Linked DNA regions of Homo sapiens. The protein of the gene in region 1 interacts with the protein of each later gene in a pairwise test. Each region holds a gene or a part of one and is shown in the gene's direction. Other genes may lie near its edges.

Region 1 (7,818 bases):
ATCTGAGACTCAAGGCAAGTTCTTCCCACCTATGACCCTGTGAAATAGGAAACAAGTTATTTAATTCCAAGATACATTGGTGGTTCAGGCATTGGGGAAATATTCCCATTCCAAAAAGGAGAAATTGCCCCAAAGAAAGTGGCAACAGGCTCCATGTAAATCCAAATTCCTGCAGGCAGACATTAAACCTTAGAGCTTAATAATAATCTTTGACTTTGTGTCCCACATCCTGGGCACATTGGTGCAAGGGGTGAGCTCCCAAGGCCGTGGGCAGTTCTGCCTGTGGCTTTGACAGGTGTAGGCCACGTGGCTGCTCTCATAGGTTGGAGATGAGTGCCTGTAGCTTTTCCATGTTGAGGTTGCAAGCTGCTGATGACTCTACACTTCCCTATCACTCCCCTAAGACTCTTCCACACACACACCCCTCAGCCCCACAGCAAAGGCAGGGGGAGATTCACAACACAGGCTTTGAGGCCTGTTTTCTTCCATCTCCTGAAAACACCACCTACCTCATCTTTCCTTTTCCCCAATAGTTTTGAGCTACGTTCTTTTGGATACATGTTATGGTCACATGGGTGAAAATTCAAAATGCATAGCAGAGTCTGTCCCCAGAATCGCCCAGCGTCCATCTAGGCTGCCCTGGGCCTTGGTTTGCTCACCTGGAGGATCTCAGAGGTGCTCCAATATCAATAGTGAGACTGCCCACACCCTCCTCTAGGGCTGTGTGTGATTCCACTGCATGGATGGACTCTGATTGTGTAGCATCTCCCAGTGGAAAATCATGGCACTAATTTTATCGTACTGCAGAAACACTGTAATGAATAATCATAAATCTACTTCCACAAGCAATATCTGAGTGTATAGCATAGTTCCTAAAAGCAAAATATAGCAGTGTTATACGTTCTTTCTAATTTTAATAAAATGAAGTTGTTCTCAACTAAAAGTGGGCAAGTTTACATTCCCAACAGTGAGCTGAGAAGGTGTGTATGGCCCTGCACTTCAGCCTGTATCAGTGTCTGTTCCATCCACCAGTCTCTTTCTGTATCATTCCTCCTTGTCTTGATCACTGTCTTTCTGACCCTCTGTCTCTTTCTCTACAGCATCCACCACCTTGGGGAATGGCTCAGCCCTTCCAGTCCTGGAAAGCCAGTCCCTGTATGTGGTCTGTGCTGTTGACAGCAATCCCCCTGCCAGGCTGAGCTGGACCTGGGGGAGCCCAACCCTGAGCCTCTCACAGCCCTTGAATCCTGGGCTGCTGGAACTGCCTCAAGTGTATCTGAGGGACGAAGGGGAATTCACCTGCAGAGCTCAGAACCCTCCAGGAGTGATGCTGCAGGCGGTCAAGGGGGGCTGGAGCCCCAGCCTGGTCTTCCTGTCCTTTTGTGTCATCTTCATCGTGTGAGCATTGACCCTGGAGAGGAAGGGAGAGCCCTGGGGGAGGGTGGCCTGGGAGCAGAATCCCTGAAGCCGGAGCTGGAAGGACCTGGCTGAGTCAGGAGTATGAAGCAAGGGAGAGAATGAGCATGGGTGCATGGTGAGAATTTCATGAGTGCCCTTGTTTGTGGGGCCACATGTCTGTGACAAACCTCGGGCCCCATTGTCCAGGAAAAAAGAGCCTCTGTTTTCAATGTTGGGGTCTCTGGGACTACAGCCTGCTTGAATTCCTCCCCTGAAAATGGGCTTTTCTTTTCTACCACTTGGCCAGGCTGCAAATTATCCAAACTTTTACACTCTGCTTCCCTTTTAAATACAATTTCCAGCTTTCAGTGATTTCTTTCTTTGCTCACACATGAGCATATGCTGTTAGAAGCAACCAGGCCATGTCTTCAATGCTTTGCTTCTTAGACATTTCTTCCACGAGATACTGAAAATCTTCACTCTTGTGCTCAAAGCTCCACAGATTCCTAGGGCAGGGGCACAATGCAGTGAAGTTCTTTGCTAAGGCATAACAAAATGGACCATCGCTCTGGTTTCCAATAAGTTCCTCATTTCCGTCTGAGACCTCTTCAGCTTGGCCTTCACTGTCCATATCACGACCAATATTTCAGTCATAACTATTCAACCAGTCTCTAGGAAGTTTCAAACTTTCCTTCATCTTTCTGTCTTTTTGTGAGCTCTCCACACTCTTCCAACTTTTGCCTGTTAACCAGTTCCAAAGTTGTTTTCAAATTTTCAGGTGTCTTTGTAGCAATGCCCCACTCCTCTGTACCAATTTTCTGTATTAGTTCATTCTTCCATTGATATAAAGAAATACCTGTGACTGGGTAACTTATAAAGACAAGAGGAATAATCGGCTCGTGGTTCTGCAGGCTGTACAGGAAGCAGGATGTTGACATCTGCTTGGCTTCTGGGGAGTTCCTCAGGAAACTTACAATCATGGCAAAAAACAAAGGGGAAGCCAGCATGTCACATGGCCAGAGTAGCAGGATAGAGCAAATGGGGAGATGCTGCACACAGACAACAAGCAGATCTTGTTAGAACTCACCCACTCTCACAAGAACAGCTCCAAGAAGATGGTGCTAAGCCATTCATGAGAAATCCACCCCCGTGATCCAACCACCTCCCACTACAACCCACCTTCAATATTGAGGCCTATAATTCGGCATGAGATTTGGTGGGGACACAGATCCAAACCATATCAGGCTCTAATCCTATTAGGCTAATCCAAACCACCTATCTAAACACCATGCCTTCTAATACTATCACATGGGGGTTCAAAGGTCAACAAATGAATTTTGAGGAGAGACATGTAGCTGTAGCACTTGTCACTCTGGTCCTTAATATCTTCCTCTCCAAATTATGGAAGTGGGTCTAGAGGGCCCATCAGCTCCTCTGAGTCATATGTGGTTCAAACGTTCTTCCTTTGCAGATTCTCTGTGGCTTCCTCATGTCTCTCCTTCCCATTTTTCTGCTTTTCTTTGCCAACTGGGGACTGTGGGAAAGAGATGGGCCGTGGTCGAGCCCTTCTTCCCATTGAGATGCTGCAACTGTCCTTACGGGAAGAAAGTGACACGGCAAGGATGGGGGCCCAGGAGCAGATTGGTCTGCAGGATGAGATACAAGCTGCAAATGCAGGAATTAGTGGTGTCAGGGAGAGGAGCAGCTATGCATGCCCCAATCCTGCACATTTCCTTTTCAATTATCACAGCCAACTGACTCTACTCCAGGTTATGGGCAATTGGGGACAACATGGGGATGGGAAGATCCATGGAGCTGAGTAAAATAAAACAGATTGTGGTTTTTATGTAAAAATAGTCTTTAGAAAAACCTATGCAAAGCCATAGTATTGAAGGCAGTGCACTCAGATGATAAAACTACATAGAAAAGCAAGGAGACCATTATCATTAAAGTGAGGCTGGGGCATCTTCAGGAGGAACTGCATGTGGCCTATAGGAAGGGGAAACACAGGGCTGAATAAATGAATGCAATTTCTTTCTTCATCTCATGGGAGAAATTTGGCAATTATCTTGTGATGTTCTATTTCTTGAACAGTGATAATTTGGTGAAAATCACTGAGTCATTTTTTTAGGTGGCACTTTTATTTACTTGTATTACATTTCCCCAAAAATCATTGTTTCAAGAAAAGCTGACATGGGTCTAAGGAGGGCGAATCTTGCAGGATTTTCCCCACCTTCCTCCCAGTACATAGCATACAGTTTCAAAAACTCTTCTGCTGAATTCAGGTGCATTTCTTCTCCCATGAAATCCTGTCCATCATTGAGCGTGGACACGCCAGGGCTGGTGTCCTCGCTCCACGTCTCCTGTTCACCTGAAACCCTGGGAGCAGAGCCTGCAGGAACAAAGGGCCAGCAGACCCCTCATGCTCTGGAGTAAGGAGGACTTGTGAGAGAGCAGTGGTGAAGGATCCCATCCTGAACCCAGAGAGCCATGGCCGAGAGAGAAACGCCTGCCCCTTTAGAAATCTGTCCCTTCCCATCCAACATTCCTCCCTTCCAGACCTCACTGTACAACAGTCACAGCCTTAGCTTCTCAGGCCTCCTGTGAACTGGGCTCTTCTCTGTGTCTTTGGTGTGTATCAACACACGGAATCCTCACCTCCACGACCCCGTGTCTCTCTGCTCAGTCCTCCCGAGACTGATTCCCCAACATAGGAGAGAGCGACCACACCCTGCCTGGTACCCCCACTGAAGCTCCTGCCATGGAGAGCTCAGATATCAGGAGCCTCAGTGTCTCCCCACTACACAGTGACTCTTTGGGGACAGTGTCTAGCTCTGCTGTGTTGAACTCCACCTCACGGCCGCTGAGGGAGGAAGGAGAGGTTGCCTGCTCATCCCACCTGCACCCCCATCTCTTATATCCTAGTGTCACCTCTGACCTACAGAGAGACATCCACAGCCTGTACTTCATAGGTCTGGCCACATGGGACTCATTTTCACCTTATGGAAAATATCACCCAAGGGGAAGGGCACTGAGAGGGAGGCAGTGGGCGGGGTGGGCCCTGCATGGGGTTGGAATCTGGGTGAGTCTTTCATCCTCTCTGGCCTCAGGGTCCCCAGGAGTGGACGGGGTAGTGGACGGTGGATCTTCCAGGGGTGACCCGGCCCTGACAGTGTCTGTGTGTGAAGTTCCTCCTGTGAGGTCACCGTTCAGAACCCACCCCCAACTTCCTGTGCGGCTTCCTCGAAATCTTGAGTTCTCAGTTCCTGAGAGAAGAACCCTGAGGAACAGACTTACCTCAGCAACCCTGGCACCTCCAACCCGACACATGCTACTGCTGCTGCTACTGCTGCCACCCCTGCTCTGTGGGAGAGTGGGGGCTAAGGAACAGAAGGATTACCTGCTGACAATGCAGAAGTCCGTGACGGTGCAGGAGGGCCTGTGTGTCTCTGTGCTTTGCTCCTTCTCCTACCCCCAAAATGGCTGGACTGCCTCCGATCCAGTTCATGGCTACTGGTTCCGGGCAGGGGACCATGTAAGCCGGAACATTCCAGTGGCCACAAACAACCCAGCTCGAGCAGTGCAGGAGGAGACTCGGGACCGATTCCACCTCCTTGGGGACCCACAGAACAAGGATTGTACCCTGAGCATCAGAGACACCAGAGAGAGTGATGCAGGGACATACGTCTTTTGTGTAGAGAGAGGAAATATGAAATGGAATTATAAATATGACCAGCTCTCTGTGAATGTGACAGGTAAGGCACGGGCTCCAAGAGAGGCCAAAGGCAAATGTGATGAGGGCTTTAGGGCACGGCTGAGACGGGACACATGTCCTGGGAGGGGGCCGGGGGTGATGGACTCAGGGGAGGAGCTGGACCAGAGCCTGAGCTTCCCCAGGACCGCACCTTGGATGCCCCTCCTGATCCTGCAAGCCCCTCCCCTCACCAGCCCTGACCCACAGGCCTGACATCCTCATCCTGCCTCTGACGCTGGCACTGTGGCATGTGGGGCCTTATGACTCCTTGTTTTGGGGCCTGTCCTAGGCATGGCCGGGGTTTAGCACCATCCCAGGCCTCTCCCCACCAGATGCCAGAAGCACCCACCCCACCCATGCAGCGAGACAATTATCTCCACACATTGTCAAACGTCCTGGGGGGTTAAGTCCTCCCCAGTTGAGAGCCTTAGGTCTACACAACCCCGTGACTCTCTCAGGCCAGGCCAGGGAGGAAGCACTTCCTGGCGCAAACCAAGGGCAGCAGAGGCACCTGAGCCTGGACAGGGAGACTCAGCACACGGCCCCTCCATCTCTCATGCCCCGAGGTCCTCGGAGATCCACATTTAGATGCTCAAAAGACAGGAGGGACCTCCACGATGGTCCAGAGGCCGGGAGGGCAGGACCTACGTGTCTGGTGCAGGCCCTGGTGCTTCAGGGAAGCCCGGAGGTAGGAGGCGGGACACGGTCTCTTCTCCTCCCTGGGTGGGTCTCTAGGGTCTCTGAGCTTTAGGGTTTCCTTCACTCTGTGCAGAGGGAATGAGTTCCTATAGCATGTGGGTTTGCAGTTTCTCTTCCATGCAGGGCTGAGGTCTCCAGCTCCTCTCCAGCCCCCTGTGGGTCCCACAGCCCTGCCCCTCCTCTCCCTCCCCCTTCTCTGCTCACACAGGGAGCCCAGGAAGCCTCTGCCTCAGAGATGCTGCTGCCCCTGCTATGGGCAAATGAAGAGAGGGACAGTGGGGGCTGGGCTGACCCTCGTTTCTCCACAGCGTCCCAGGACCTACTGTCAAGATACAGGCTGGAGGTGCCAGAGTCGGTGACTGTGCAGGAGGGTCTGTGTGTCTCTGTGCCCTGCAGTGTCCTTTACCCCCATTACAACTGGACTGCCTCTAGCCCTGTTTATGGATCCTGGTTCAAGGAAGGGGCCGATATACCATGGGATATTCCAGTGGCCACAAACACCCCAAGTGGAAAAGTGCAAGAGGATACCCACGGTCGATTCCTCCTCCTTGGGGACCCACAGACCAACAACTGCTCCCTGAGCATCAGAGATGCCAGGAAGGGGGATTCAGGGAAGTACTACTTCCAGGTGGAGAGAGGAAGCAGGAAATGGAACTACATATATGACAAGCTCTCTGTGCATGTGACAGGTAAATCTCTGGCTCTAGGACCAGCCAGAGGGGAAGGCCCGAGGGCCGCAGGGTAGGGCTGAGGTGGGACCCCCATCCTGGGAGGGAGTTGGAGGTGAAGCATATCTGGCTCAGGGGAGGAGTAAGACCAGAGCCTGAGCCTCCTCAGCACCACACTTCAGACCCCAACACCCTCATTTTGCCTGTCTCCCTTTCATCACCAGCCCTGACTCACATGCCCACCTTCTCCATCCCGGGGACCCTGGAGTCTGGCCACCCCAGGAACCTGACCTGCTCTGTGCCCTGGGCCTGTGAACAGGGGACGCCCCCCACGATCACCTGGATGGGGGCCTCCGTGTCCTCCCTGGACCCCACTATCACTCGCTCCTCGATGCTCAGCCTCATCCCACAGCCCCAGGACCATGGCACCAGCCTCACCTGTCAGGTGACCTTGCCTGGGGCCGGCGTGACCATGACCAGGGCTGTCCGACTCAACATATCCTGTGAGTTCTGGGCCAGGACGTCTGGGTCTTTGATCGGGATTCCTTGAGGCCAGTTGGATGTGGGACCCAGACTCAAGGATCTGGGTCCTGGAATCTTGGCTGGGAGTTGGGGGTCAGGAGGATGCTGGCTCCACCTTCCCCATTTATGGGGCTCCTGGGGAGACAGGGTCAGTGTCCCCAGTCCTCAAAGTGATGGGAACTCCGTGTCTTTCTGTTCCAGATCCTCCTCAGAACTTGACCATGACTGTCTTCCAAGGAGATGGCACAGGTAAGATGGAGTCCTCTCCCTGGGGCTGGAGGAGCAGAGCCTTCAACTCAGGGGAGAGCCAGGACTCACCCTGGTGACCTGAGACCCTTTTGTGGGTGAGCCCCGGCCCCCCCCTCCCTCAGCCTCAGCCTTTTGGCCACCTGAGCACCTTCTCATCACCCCTTCACTCCCCTTGAACTCCTCCACACACACACCTATTTTGGCCCCACAGCAAGGGTAGAGGGACATTCACACAGCAGCTCAAGGATTTGAGGACTCTTATCTTCCAGCTCCTGAATATTGCCTCATCCTTTTATTTTCACCAATAGTTCTGAGGTATATTCTTTTGGATACATACTATAGTCACATGGGCAAAAATTTATAATGCACAGCAGAGTCTGTCCCCAGAATCGACCAGGGTCTGTCCAGGCTGTCCTGAGCCTTGGTTTGTGCACCTGGAAGATCTCAGAGGTGGTTTGATGTCAGTAGTGAGACTGTTTGCACCCTCCTCTAGGGCTGTGTGTCATTCCACTGTCTGAATAGTCTCTG
Region 2 (7,200 bases), on another chromosome or scaffold:
TATCTTGGCACTGTCCCCAAAAGAGGATGACGCTGAGCCACTTGGGGACTATACACCCAGGCTGTAAGATGTTTCATTGCTTAAGAGATTTTTGGAGAGTGATATTTTGAATTGCCCTTGCTGAACTTAAAAACAATGCGAAAAAGAAGAGCTGCTTCTTGTGACTTTGTACTCTTAGTTGTTTTGTGTCACACAGCACGTTGGGGGCTGAGCCACCATGGGAATTGTTGCTGACACCTTTTTATTTATTTTTTTGAGACAGAGCCTCACTCTGTTGCCCAGGCTGGAGTGCAGTGATGTAATCTCGGCTCACTGCAACCTCTGCCTCCCGGGTTTAAGCGATTCTCATGCCTCAGCTTCCCAAGGAGCTGGGGCTAGAGGCGCCCACCACCACACCTGGCTAATTTTTGTATTTTCAGTAGAGATGGGGTTTCACCATTTTGGCCAGGCTAGTCTCGAACTCCTGACCTCAAGTGATCCGCCTGCCTCAGCCTCCCAAAGTGCTGGGGTTACAAGCGTGAGCCACCATGCCTGGCCCGCTGACACCTTTTTAAAAAGTCATGTTTTAGCATCGTATTGCTAATTTCACAATGCTGTGAGTAGAGTAAAGCATTAGGAAGAGTTCAAAACTCGGTCCTTTTTCTTATGTATCTAGACTGTTGGTTACTACAGGGCAGGGGCCACCTCTTGTCTGTTTTCACCCCAGCATTGAGAACAGAGTGGGCATTCAGTTTGTTGATTGCTTTTGAGGTTGGCATCACTAAACCCCATTTCCAGGGGACCTCTGAGTTGATGTCACCCAACCCCATCACCTCCCCTAGGCTTTCAGCACCTCTTCACTGAGGCCTTTGTTAGTACTGTTTATTTTTCCTGGAAGAGGTGAGGAAGTAGCAGTATAGGCATATTCAGCAGCCAGGGAGAACCAAAGAAGAGAATAAAATTAAGATTTTTCTTGTCCCTTCTCTAACCTCTGCTTACATTCCAGCTCGACAGGATCCTAGGGACAAGCACAGCCAGGGTCGAGTCACATGTCTTTGGCACATTCTTGTTTGTTTATCTGTAACCTGGGCTTATGGTCATGTGTGCTCGTATCCTTCATGGTTCCCAGAACAAGACCAGATACATGAATGCAAGGGCCTTAGAAAATGTAAAATCATGTTTCTGCCAGGCAAACTTGCCCTGTTGGTCTGTAACAAGTATTGTAGGGAAGCAACTACCTGGTACAGTTTTGCAGAATGTGAAGTGGCATCCCTGTGGGGAGCCAGGTTGTCCTGGGGCCACTGCAAGCATGGCCAATGCATTCTTAGTGTTTGTCACCTACATGCTTCAGGAGAAGATGTGAGGGTCTGTGCCATTAAATTACACTCTTAAGCTGAGATGGGTCCAGAGTAATTTTATGCATTGGAATGAACTTTAAGAACATGTAGTTCAACCCATCCCATGTTTTAGGTGAGAAAACTGGGAATTAGACTAATTAGAGCATTTGTCCAAGTTCATGCAGTTATGAAATGAGAGAGCCAGGTTTCAAAGCCTTTTTCTGGCTTCAAGCCCATTCATTTTTCTAATGCACAATGATGTCCTTCTCAAGTGTAAATGAGAGTTGATCAAGTAATATAAAGTGAGAACCTACTCATGCCGGATAGTCTATGTTGATGCTGTATAGAATTAAAATATAAATATGTCCATGGATGTGTGGCTAGGTGGAGGATGGCGGAGATATGGGTAAGTTAGGCACAGCTCTCAAAGAGAGGAAAGACATCAGTATAGATAGACATGGACAAAGGAAACGTGGGCGGTCCCCATGACAGCTGCGCCAGGTTTCAGCAGGAGATCTGCCCAGCCAGGGCTCTAGAGTTCAGGAGAAGGGGGTCATTTTCAACAAGCTTAACATGGGGGTGACATTTCAACAGGGCGCTGAGAGACAGGAAGGCACAGGGAAGAGGACACAGTAAGCTCCTTGGGTGAAGACAGGCCTCCCTTAGGAGGCCAAGAATAGAGCAGTTGGGAGGGAAGTTTTTACTGTGTTTCTTTCTTTTTTTTTTTTTTTTTTCCTTCCCTTGGACTTTTCCATCCCCACTCTTCCAGATTTTCTTTTTTTTTTCGTTAGACTGATCTCCCTAACACACCTGGAAAGATATGGGCTTATATAACACTTTTCTAGAGACAATAAAACTCCCGATTAATTCTTTTTTTTTTGAGAGATAGGGTCTTGCTTATCTAGGCTGGAGTGCAGTGGAGCAATCACAGCTTACTGCAGCCTCGAACTCCTGGGCTCAAGTGATCCTCCACCTCTGCCTCCCGAGTAGCTGGGACTATATATGTGTGGCACCACGCCTGGCAATTTTTTTTTTCATTTTTTTGTAGAGATAGAGTCACTCTCTGTCACCCAGGCTGGAGGGCAGTGGCATAATCACAGCTCACTGCCTCAGCCTTCCAGGATCAAGTAATTTTCTTGTCTGTATAGCTGAGATGACAGGCATGCACCACTGCGCCCAGCTAATTTTTAAAGTTTATTTATTTATTTATTCATTCATTCATTTCATTCATTCATTATAGAGATAGGGTCTCACTTTGCTGCCCAGGCTGATTTCAAACTCCTGGCTTCACGCTGTCCTCCTGCCTGCACCTCCCAAAGTGCTGGGATTACAGGCGTGAGCTGCAGCACCCAGCACTAAATTAATTCTTGATCTGTATATTTATTCACATTTCTGTAAGATAGGAATAGAAGAGACTGTGAAGTTAGAATTTGACCCACCTGGCACATGTTGTTGTTTATAATATTAATGGTTAAGAGCAGGAGAGTTCATTTTGAATACTACCTATTAAGGACATGATCTGCCAGTAAAACATCTCCGCACCTGAGTATGTGTCAATACTTTGCAAACCTAATTTAATCCCCGCCTATTTTGAATTTATGATAATTCAGCTGGGCTGCCCTGAAGTTGTTTAATGTATGTAGAAAAGCAGATTAATGGTGTAAACAAGATTATTGGGAGAACACTTAAGAAAACAAGACTTTTCAAGTACTTTGGTAGCATTCATTTACATAAACACCCTACATGTTAATTACGATTGAGTATTATCTATTCATTAAAGCAAGCTTGCTGGGTCTCTACTTGGCAAAAGCTCTGCTCGTTTTGACAGATGCTTAAAAGTGATCGAAATTGCAGTTCTTTTTATATGTTCTATCATTTCGAATTTGCACTAATTTTCTTATTACAGTGAGAAATTTTTGTCTCTGCTTTTCATTTTATTAGGCAGTGGAAATTGGAACATTTGTGTTACAAATCAGGAGAGCTTATCACAGAAACAGGTTACATGGATCAGGTATATTTTCTTCTTGTTGGCAAAAATTTCTCAGGAACACCCCAGTAGTGTGCCTTAACCTAACGCATGGCCTCTTCTTTTTAACTTTGACAGATAATAGAATATCTTTACCCTTGTTTGATTATTACACCTTTGGACTGCTTCTGGGAAGGGGCGAAATTACAGTCTGGGACAGCATACCTCCTGTAAGTGTGTGATCATGCTTTCTGATGTCTGTGACTTCTCTAGGACTCAGTGTTTCTAATGTTGCTTATCATTGTTTGTTCCATTTCAGTTTTGAACAAGAAATAAAAACATTGAAATTCCATGTGCATTTTTTGAGTGAATAGTCGGGGGAGAGGGGATTTCAGCAGAATGTTTTTTCTCTTTTCAAAAAACAATTCTGTAGGCGTCATTAAATTTCATTCACTTTTACCAACCTATTTATATGCAAATAAAATGCAAATTATTGCAGAGTACGTGTGATTTTTTAACTCTTTAAAATGTTCGTAGTTTCGAAGACGAGGCATTTAGACACTTATTTTTTAAGGAGAGACTTTATTAGTGAGTGGGTTCACATCAGAATGAAATATTTTGAGTTTGAGATCTTCCTGTGAAGTAAAAAGCTAACCTTTCTTTAGATCACACTAATGGCATTTAAGGGGGAAATCCACTATCTGTGAAGGCCACAGTAGGGAATGTTTCACCGTTTAGCAGTTGGATATTATATATACCGCATCATTTAGAGAATAATTGTTAATCAGCATAGACATTTTCAGTTAATTATGCAAGAGTGAGAGCTTGGGTTATTGTTTCTGTCCTGGCTTGCACATATCTGCAAAAGCAATTTGCAGTGGCCATCCCCTGACCTTCAGTGTACAGTTTTAGATGGGAAATAAGGGGTTTTGTGTTTTCTGGTTGGGAGATTCCGAATAATGACTTCAGCCTGGTTAAGCAGCTACAGTGTGGTTTGAACCACATAACAGGCAGCCAAAAGCCTTTCTGGTCTGTCAACAGCACAGATTCAAAAGTGAGTGTGGGGGGAAGTGGCTGTGATGGTGGTGATGGCAGAGGCTGCAGGGGGCTTGCCCATTCCATTGCCAGGCTGTCAGAGAGCGCTCATAAGTATGGGATTGTTAAAGGTAGCAGAGATCAAATATTTTGATTGATGACATTTACAAAGTATTTATTTGGCTGCCAAGTGCTAATTTGATATTGTGACGCCCTCTTTTTTAAAAAAAAAAAAATTTAATTTTGGATCTGTCTTTTTGGCTAATTTTGTATGTAGATATTAAATATACAATATCAGCAATTAAAGATTATTCAGTGCCCTCATTAACTTATGAGTCCTCTCTCTGCTTAGCATCTTCAGTCATGAATTATTTTCCTGACCTAAGTTTTTATGCAGATATGCTGGAAAGGAGCATTTGTTTTGATGCCAGAGTCCCAGAACTGCAGCATTGCCAGGAACCTCCTACAAGGTGGATGCAGTGGGCGCAGCCGTGTTACTTTACGATGCGTTTAGAAGGCTCTTTTCATGGTCTCGTCTCCTAATTTCTTTTGCAGAGGTAAACCTCCTTTGCGGTGGACAAACTTCGACCCTTTGGAATTCCTGGAAGAGTTAAAGAAAATAAACTATCAAGTGGACAGCTGGGAGGAAATGCTGAATAAGGCTGAGGTTGGTCATGGTTACATGGACCGCCCCTGCCTCAATCCGGCCGATCCAGACTGCCCCGCCACAGCCCCCAACAAAAATTCAACCAAAGTGAGTACCAGCAGTGAGCGCTCTCAGAAGGGTGGAGAGCAAAACACTTTTTTGTGTCCATTCATCGTTCACTTTATTATTTTCATTTTTAACATTTCATTCTCCATGATCGTCTTTGTCTATGGAACTAAGTTTATTTATAGAGCTAAATTTTGCTGTAAGATTTGCCATACACCTCCCATTAGCCTTGCTATTAATGTTCTCTCTGAAACACACAAGCCCTTAATGCACTGGATTTTAACAAGGCATGTGACCTGCCTACTAATTCCCATAATTATGTGGCTGTCTTTTTATTTTAGCCTCTTGATATGGCCCTTGTTTTGAATGGTGGATGTCATGGCTTATCCAGAAAGTATATGCACTGGCAGGAGGAGTTGATTGTGGGTGGCACAGTCAAGAACAGCACTGGAAAACTCGTCAGGTAAGCCAGCTCCCGAGGACAATCTATGCCCTGTAGTCTTCTTCCTTTCCTCAAAAGCCACTTCCCTCCTGACATCGGCAAGTGTATTTGTATTAATACTTAAACCGTTATCCTCGCTAGCCAGGTGGCGTCATAGAATATTAAGAAATAGTAGCAGACTGCAACAGCTTGAAAAAGCACCTTGTGGGGAATTTTTCAAGAATGGATTTGTAGTTTTCATCAGGACCATAGTTCCTGACTATAGGGTTTAAGGAGATCTGCCCATTAGGTAGAGAATGGGAGCAGGTGTAAAGTAGGCCGGGACACACTGGTCAGAGAGAGTTGGTGGTGCGAGCTGCACAGTGTCATAGACTGTTAGCAAAAGATGGAGAGCCAGCGGCTCAATAAGAATTATCCTTTGTGCACTTGTGGACTCTGGTCAGTCAGGTGTCTGGCGTTTCGTGTAAGATTTCTCCCTTGGGAACGCCACCGTCTGGGATTTCTGCACAGCAAGTATGCGTCACTGAGCCCGGTGTATCTGTTCAAGCTATCTGCTCCTCTCCCCTTCCTGTTTCATGGAATGGAAACTGTGAAAGGAAATTGCCTATTAATTTAATTTTGGGGTATATCTGTAAAAGGTTTGTAAGGTTATACCTTTAATATGGTACATCAATCTATTAAATAAAATAACCATCCTGGTCCCATTTTAATGGAAACATGTGCTCACAGAGAAGGAAAAGAATTGCAGCCAGTGAGTTGGGGGAGCTGGCTGGGGATTTGAGGCAGTGGAAACTGCTTCCTGGGAATACTGATGATGTGCCTTCCCTTGGACTGTGCTGCAGCGCCCATGCCCTGCAGACCATGTTCCAGTTAATGACTCCCAAGCAAATGTACGAGCACTTCAAGGGGTACGAGTATGTCTCACACATCAACTGGAACGAGGACAAAGCGGCAGCCATCCTGGAGGCCTGGCAGAGGACATATGTGGAGGTAAACCCACCTTCGAATCGGCGTGCAGACTCGCTGGTTATGCAATTCTTCATTTTCACCATTATTTAAAACATTTCTTTCCATTCGCTTTATTTTCAAAACATTGCAATTCTGGGAACTTGATGGGATGAAAACTTTTTTCCTCTTCTTTGATATTGAAAATCCTGGGATAATATCTAAAAGACTAGTTCTAATTGGGGTGCCCTGAGACATGTTTAGTAACCAGTTGTGAATTCCAGAACTAAAGCACATAACAGTGTTTAAAAAAACACTTGGTTAGCAAAGGTGTCTGGAAAACATTAGCAAGGCATAGAATCTGTTCACAGCTGCAGGCCCCTTGGTCAGGTCATGTGACAGGAGCTGGCCTTTGTTTCCCAAGCAGTGACCTCTACTGAGCTGCATGTGACCTTTTAAAAGTGGCCAGCAAATGAACAGGGGGAGGAGGGCCATAAGAATGAGTTGTTTTGGATTAGTGGGGAGCCGATGGGACCGCAAGTCAATTGTGAAGTTAACGGAGAAGAGACGAGCAGTCTCAGCCCTGGAGTAAATACAGCACTCAGAGTGAACTCCAGCGACACCAGCCCTCAGCAGCACCCACTGCCACTGATTAGCCATGGCCCTTGTCCTAAAACAGGGTTCTTTAATGTTAGCCCAACTTCAGCTTCTCTCCCTGCCCTGGAATCACGTAGAACTTTTTTAAAAAATGCATCAGAAAAAAAGAAGGGCTGCGCTGTGTCAC
Region 3 (7,200 bases), on another chromosome or scaffold:
AGAGGTTGTTACCCAGTCCTCCATCCTGGGCCGGGTTCCCTCAACCTTATGGCTTCTGGAGTCTCAACTGGCAATGCTGTCTCCTGGATTTGTCCCAGGAGGCTGGAGTGACTCTGCCTTACCCTGGCTCCTGATTATAAACCAAACTCCAAAGAGCTAAGTAATATCTAGCTCCTCCTTCTCCCTTGCTTCACTCAAGCCAGGAGTGTCAGGGCCAGCAGATCACATCTCAAGCTTCCCCAGAGAATTAGATGGGCCCTGGCTCTACACTGGAAGCACTGTGTGCCCTGGGAAAATAAAGCCTGACCTTCAATTCTCCACGTCCCTGTTTGTAATGTGAGTTAGTAATAACACTTCCCTCCCAAGACTGTTGTCAGGATTACGTGAGGAAATGTATGGAAAGCTCCTGACACGGTGACAAGCAGGGACCATTATTAGATTTAACGCCACTACTCTTAAGACCAGCCCAGGGTGATACTGGACTGGAGAGGGTCCCATCAGGCCAAGACAGAATTCAGTTAGGAAGGAGGAGTTCCCTCCTGCCAGGGTGTTTGGCTGTGGGTCTTCACTAAGGAAAAGTTTGTTTGTATGTCTGTCTGCTTGTTTGTTTGAGACAAGGTCTTGCTCTCTTTCCCAGGCTAGAGTGTAATCGTGTGATCACCTCACTGCAGCCTCAAACTTCTAGGCTCAAGCAATCCTCCTGCCTCAGCCTCCCAAGTAGCTAGGACCACAGGGGCACACCACCATGCCTGGCTAATTCTTTTTTTAATTTTTCGTATAGACGAGGGTCTCACTATGTTGCCGAGACTGATCTTGAATTCCTGGGCTCAAACAATCCTCCTGCCTTGGCATCCCAAAGTGCTGGGATTACAGGTGTGAACTACCATGCATGGCCAGAAAAAGTGTTAAAATATCAGTTCCCTGAAGGATTAAACACACTCAACATCTTTCCATCATCCCAAAATGGCAAAAGAGCAACAGAATTTGAAAGCAGCTGGCAGAATCTAAAGACGGCGAGCAGAAACAAAACAAAACCGAGGACCAACCCCTTCACAGATCTTTCTCTTTTTTTCTTAATTTTAGTTCTTTTTACTTATATATTTTAATTATTTTTTTCTTCAAATTTTATTCCAAGTTCTGGGGTACACGTGCAGGATGTGCAGGTTTGTTACGTAGGTAAGCGTGTGCCATGGCGGTTTGCTGCACTGATCAACCCTTCACTGAGGTATAAAGCCCAGCAACCATTAGCTATATTTCCTGATGCTCTCCCTCCTCCCGCCTCCCCCCGACAGGCCCCAGTGTGTGTTGATCCCCCTGCACGTGTCCATGTGTTCTTACCATTTAACAGTTCTTTCACCCAGGTAAAAGCACCCAATTCTAGAACTATACTTGATAGTTACGAGACATTTTCATGACTACCATCATACCACATGCTCTCAACAGCCCTGCGAGGCAGATATTATAGATATCATCATCCCATTGTACAGATGAGGAAACTGAGAACTAAGAAGGGAAAGCGATCCATATAAAGTTGCACAGTAAGGCCGAGTGCGGTGGCTCACGCCTGTAATCCCAGCACTTTGGGAGGCCGAGGCGGGTGGATCACCTGAGGTCAGGAGGTCGAGAGCAGCCCAGCCAACATGGTGAAACCCCGTCACTACTAAAAATACAAAAAATTAGCCAAGTGTGGTGGCATGTGCCTGTAATCCCAGCTACTCAGGAGGCTGAGGCAGGAGACTCACTTAAACTTGGGAGGCAGAGGCTACAGTGAGCCAAGATCCCGCCACTGCACTCCAGCCTGGATGACAGAGTGAGACTCGGTCTCAAAAAAAAGAAAAAAGTTAAGTTCCACAGTGGGTGGCAGGGCTAGGACTCAGAACTGGGTCTTCAGACTCCGGGTTCCTCCTCTTTTACCAGTACATACTGAGCGAGCACTGGAGGGTAAGAGGCAGTTACCAGCCTGTTTCTCCCACACACGTGACCTCTCTTGACTCCGCAGACATCTTGTGGGGGTGGGGCCGGTGTTACTATCTCCACTTTACAGACAAGGAAGCTGAGGCTCAGGCCCAAGTCTGTGTGCTACCAAGTAGCAAAACTGAGCCTGGAACTCACACATGCGTGTCTGAGAGCCCAGCACTATCGCCAGGAAAACCCAGCGTCTCCCTGCTCAAGCCTGACCCTCAGCCCTCTCTGCCTCTCCCTGCACTTGCCTTCCAGTCAAGGTGATTCTGGATAAATACTACTTCCTCTGCGGGCAGCCTCTCCACTTCATCCCGAGGAAGCAGCTGTGTGACGGAGAGCTGGACTGTCCCTTGGGGGAGGACGAGGAGCACTGTGTCAAGAGCTTCCCCGAAGGGCCTGCAGTGGCAGGTGAGTGCAGGGTCTGAGGCACAAGAGAAGTGGGCCCAGCAGGAGGTCTGCTCAGGCCCCCACGGCCCACTGCATAGTATCTGCCCCCTACTTGTCACTTTTCATCCTTGTTGTATAAGGTTCTTTGTTTGTTTGTTTGTTGTTGTTTTGAGGCAGAGTGCTCTGTGGCCCAAGATGGAGTGCAGTGTCTTGGTCTCGGCTCACTGCAACCTCTGCCTCCCAGTTTCAAGTGATTCTTCTGCCTCAGCCTCATGAGTAGCTGGGATTACAGGTGCCAGCCACCACGCCTGGCTAATTTTTATATTTTTAGTAGAGACGGGGTTTTGCCACATTGGTCAGGCTGATCTTGAACTCCTGACCTCAGGTGATCTGCCCGCCTCAGCCTCCCAAAGTGCTGGGATTACAGGCGTGAGCCACCGTGCCCAGCTGTGTAAGTTTCTTGAGAGCAGGACCCTGTCTTGTCTACCTTTAAATCCTAGTACTTAACACACAGCAAACAGTAACTATTTGATGACCAAATGTGAGCCAGAAAGGACAGGAAATTGTAACTGAGGCTGCCCCATGCGTGCTGCGCCTGGTGGATTTCAGGCAGAGGGCTAGACTGGGTGACCTTGGGGCATTCCTCCTTTCTATGAAATTTGTTATTTCAAGGAGACTAGAAAAGAGACTTCTCAGCCACTTCGCCAGCTATTGGTCCTTCTATTCATTAGTGTTTGCTGAGACATGCTATGTGACAGGACTGAGCCAGGTCCTTTCAATGGATAGGAGATGTTTTGAGCATAAAATCCACGTTCTCTCTTGGGCTGGGCTCTTCTACCTTCTTCCCCCTGGTGCTTGGGCTCTGAAGAAAAAAAGATAGGTAGGAGATGAGTGATGGGGCTTCTGAGGGCAGGGCTGAGTGACTTTCTGTGTATTTGCTCTTTCTTTATCAGAAGTCAAATGCCCACAGGCACCTGTCATCCTACTGCCAGTAGGACTTCTCACTCAACCTTCCCCTCTGACCTTACTTGGAGAAGGACTTAGGTCCCTCTCTCAGACATTTCCCCAGGCTGGGCAAGTTGTGTGGACCATGGATGGGTATGTGGTCCATACAATTTAAACAAGCTGTATATGGTCGCTGGGTAGAGTGACCACATAATTGATCATCAAAACTGATACCTGTAAGAGCAAAAGGGGGCACTATTAACCATTGGGTCAGGGCAACAGGTCAAAATGGAGACCTACCCTGGGACTTCTGGTCACACTAGCTACTGTCAAAATGGGGCCCAAATAGACAAAGCCAAATGGAAGAAATTCCCTTGACATTGAAAGTGTTGGGGCTCTGTGGCACCCCCAGTTCTAGGTTGGGGGAGCTTGGGCTGGTCTCATGATGAGTTCTGAGGGGGATGGGCCAGTTGGGCCCCCCGTTCCATCTAACTCAGGTTCCTTTCCTCCCAGTCCGCCTCTCCAAGGACCGATCCACACTGCAGGTGCTGGACTCGGCCACAGGGAACTGGTTCTCTGCCTGTTTCGACAACTTCACAGAAGCTCTCGCTGAGACAGCCTGTAGGCAGATGGGCTACAGCAGGTAACCAACCTGGGCCTCTCTCCTTTTTCCCTCCTTCCTCCTTCCTCCTCTTCCTCCTTTCCTTCCTCCCTTCTTCTCTCTTTCCTAAAAATTACGGGCATTGGAGCCAGGCAGAATGGCTTTTGAATCCCAGCATTTCACTTATAAGCAACATGAAGTTAAATTTCCTAAGCCTCAGGTTCCTCAGGAGTTAATTGGGGGAACTAATGCCAACCTCATAGGATAGTTTTGCAATGCCAGTGAGAGAATGTGTGCTGCCCTCCAACACACACACACACACTTCTAGCGTCTATGCAGTCCTCTCCTTTCCTTTACTCCTCAACCTTCACTCCTTTGTGCTGGCTTTGCAAGAAACTGTTCCTGCCCAGTAATACAAAAGCTAAGTTAACTTATTCAAAGTTTCGTTAGTTAAGATTTAGCTTAAGTGAGCCTAGTTTCAGTGGGGCCCCATCTTCAGCAATCCCAGCTCTCTCTGCAAATTTCAAAAGCAGTTCCAAATCTGGAGTGGATGAAAAGGTGTAAGATGATAGTAAGAGTAATTTGCATTCTATATATTTATATTCACTTGATTTTGGCAGAAAACCAAAAAGATAGTTATTATATCTTATATATAGATATATATTATATCTATTTCATAAATAGGCTCAAACAAAGTAAGTAACTTGCTAGGGTACTAGCTGGGAGGTAGAGGGCTAGAATTTGAGCCCAAGACCCCTAATTCTTGCGCATTAGGAGTTCCCACATTGTTTCTGTTTCTAGACTGAGTAATTCTTTATTCTCATGTAGGACATCATCTCTAAGGGAAGGGGCTAATGAGATGGTTGATCACTCAGAGAGTTTAGCTGGAGAGGATGGAAAAGAACCCATACATTCAGTTGCAGATTGAGATAGCCTATCTCTGGCAGGCCTCAGATTTCTTCAGGATTCTAACAGACTGGACCCAGAGACTAGGCCAAACAAACAAACAAACAAAAACTCTACTAGGCAGACATCACCAACCAATCACAGAACTCTCTCCCATGGATCCCTAATACAGCCTCAAAGTCCTTTTCAGTAAATGCTCCAGGCAGCCATTACAAATCAATCAGAATTATTTGCCTTTCTCTTCTCTGCTCAACGGGCTTCTGCTGCTCTCTACTTTCCATAGGGGGCAACTTCCATTACCCTCTAGAAAGCACACCCCACCACCTTCATTTCAAGGAGAGTGAGGAACTCATGCCCAGCACCTGCTATTCTCCCCTCTTCCTGCAGCCACGGAGCCCAGCCTCGCTGCAGCCAGCCCTGCCTCCCCACTGTAGTCCAGTCAACTGCTGCATCAGCCGTTCCTGGCACAGCAGGCTGAGCCTTGATTATGAAACCTGGGTGTCTCCAGGGGTTCTTAAGATGATAGGCTCCTGGAATTTCTGTCCTTTTGGAGCTCAGTAAGGCACCAAACCACCTGAGTCTTGTGCTTCACAAAATCAAAGTTCATCAGAATCATTCATTGGGATGGAATTGGTGAACAGAAGTTAACTTTCCTGGGAATGTCCATTTCCACCATATTCCGTCCTTCTAGGTCTCAGACTTCTCTACTTTCTTTCCTCTCTCTAGATCGGAGGCCCTTCTTGTCCTAGAACCATAGGCATTTCAAGATGTGGGAGACCCTAGGGATCATCTAGTCCACGCATCTTTTTTTTTTTTTTTTGACAGAGTCTCACTCTGTCACCCAGGCTGGAGTGCAATGGCACCATCTCTGCTTACTGCAACCTCCACCTCCCAGGTTCAAGTGATTCTTTCGCCTCAGCCTCCCAAGTAGCTGGGATTACAGGCACGCACCATCATGCCCAGCTAATTTTTATATTTTTGTAGAGACCGAGTTTCACCATGTTGGCCAGGCTGGTCTTGAACTCCTGACCTCAGGTGATCCACCCACCTCGGCCTCCCAAAGTGCTGGGATTACAGGCGTGAGCCACTGCACCCAGCCCCGTGCATCTTTTTATAGAGGGGGAAACTGAGGCTTGGAGAGACCCAGAAAAAGAATATGACCTGCCCAAGGCCACACATCAAACTAGTGCCAGAGCCAGGGACAGAACCTAGATCATGAGGACTCTTAAAATGCACTCTAGTCCTCCCAGGTCTGAGACTTGGGTCCTTCCAGGAAGTGCCAGCATTCCTGCCTGAGAATGTGCCAATCCACCAGTATTGCCAATGACTCAGCCCTCCATGGAGAGCTTCTACTAACATTACTAGCATAGTTAGGGATGGAAGGAAAAGATTTAGAAGAGGCAGATTCAGTAAAGGAACAATCAGAGAGATGGAATTAATCAAGGAAGGCTTCCTGGAGGAGGAAAAACTTCAACCCAAGGTTTGAAAGTAGCAAGCATGGATTAGCAGGGAGAAAGAGGGAGAGTGGTCCAGTTGAGAGAAACGTTTGTCTGGATTCATATGAAGACAGATCTAGTCCTGTTCTATTAAATATCTCTAAGGGGGCCAAAAACATACCCCCGCTATCAAAGTCAGACCAGATGCTTTGTTTGGAGAACGAAATATCCACATTCCAACTCCCTCCCAGGTGAGAAGGGAGCTAACCTGAGCCCCTATGCCTCTTTGTTTCCCTGCTGTGAACCAGAAGACATTGCTGGGATATTTGAAATAGGGACAGAGCTGGGAATATGGAAAGGAGACCCCTAACATTTCTCCAGGGCTCTGGGTTCTGGATTTGGATTCCCCACCCAAGAAAGCAAGTTACATCAGCAATGCACTGAGGGTTGAGTCCTGGGATGCCAAGGGTCGGTTCTTTATTGTATAGCAAAGCAGGCCCCATCTTCACTGACTAAGACCATCTCCACTCCCTGGCCACTCCCCACCAAGCATTCTCTGCCACTCTTTCTCCTGAAAGTGGGGGCCAACTCTACCATCTTGTTCTAACCCCCTGCCCCAGCTCACAACTCTCTCTCCCTCTTGATGTGAGCAGCAAACCCACTTTCAGAGCTGTGGAGATTGGCCCAGACCAGGATCTGGATGTTGTTGAAATCACAGAAAACAGCCAGGAGCTTCGCATGCGGAACTCAAGTGGGTAAGTGAGGGGACACCTTCTGGCCTACAGAAGGCCCCCACATGGACGCTGCTCTTCAGGTTGCAACCAGCTCACCTGGAACCCCAAGCAGCCAGGGGAATGTAAGCAGACATCAGGAAGAACTCCTAGCCAGATGGATCATTCAATGCCAAGAGCTATAGACTCACATTTTGGAGAGGTTTTCTGTGTTGACTTGTTTTTAATACAA

The links. Proteins that work in one complex are often made in the same cells at the same time.
Region 2: the proteins of SIGLEC12 (region 1) and PTCH1 interact in binary tests that used the Homo sapiens proteins (3 or more experiments, as listed by UniProt).
Region 3: the proteins of SIGLEC12 (region 1) and TMPRSS4 interact in binary tests that used the Homo sapiens proteins (3 or more experiments, as listed by UniProt).

The regions. Positions count from the first base shown.
Region 1 is NC_000019.10:51,498,642-51,506,459, reverse strand, and holds the start of SIGLEC12 (sialic acid-binding Ig-like lectin 12 isoform a precursor), read left to right. Parts: upstream 1-4,659; 5' UTR 4,660-4,726; coding exon 4,727-5,153; intron 5,154-6,066; exon of another isoform or gene 6,067-6,086; coding exon of another isoform or gene 6,087-6,159; coding exon 6,160-6,540; intron 6,541-6,743; coding exon 6,744-7,022; intron 7,023-7,242; coding exon 7,243-7,290; intron 7,291-7,818. UniProt on the Homo sapiens protein: Putative adhesion molecule that mediates sialic-acid dependent binding to cells. The sialic acid recognition site may be masked by cis interactions with sialic acids on the same cell surface.
Region 2 is NC_000009.12:95,478,261-95,485,460, reverse strand, and holds part of PTCH1 (protein patched homolog 1), read left to right. Parts: intron 1-3,257; coding exon 3,258-3,327; intron 3,328-3,420; coding exon 3,421-3,512; coding exon of another isoform or gene 3,513-3,516; exon of another isoform or gene 3,517-3,634; intron 3,635-4,872; coding exon 4,873-5,071; intron 5,072-5,370; coding exon 5,371-5,492; intron 5,493-6,313; coding exon 6,314-6,461; intron 6,462-7,200.
Region 3 is NC_000011.10:118,100,884-118,108,083, forward strand, and holds part of TMPRSS4 (transmembrane protease serine 4), read left to right. Parts: intron 1-2,217; coding exon 2,218-2,370; intron 2,371-3,807; coding exon 3,808-3,937; intron 3,938-6,890; coding exon 6,891-6,992; intron 6,993-7,200. UniProt on the Homo sapiens protein: Plasma membrane-anchored serine protease that directly induces processing of pro-uPA/PLAU into the active form through proteolytic activity.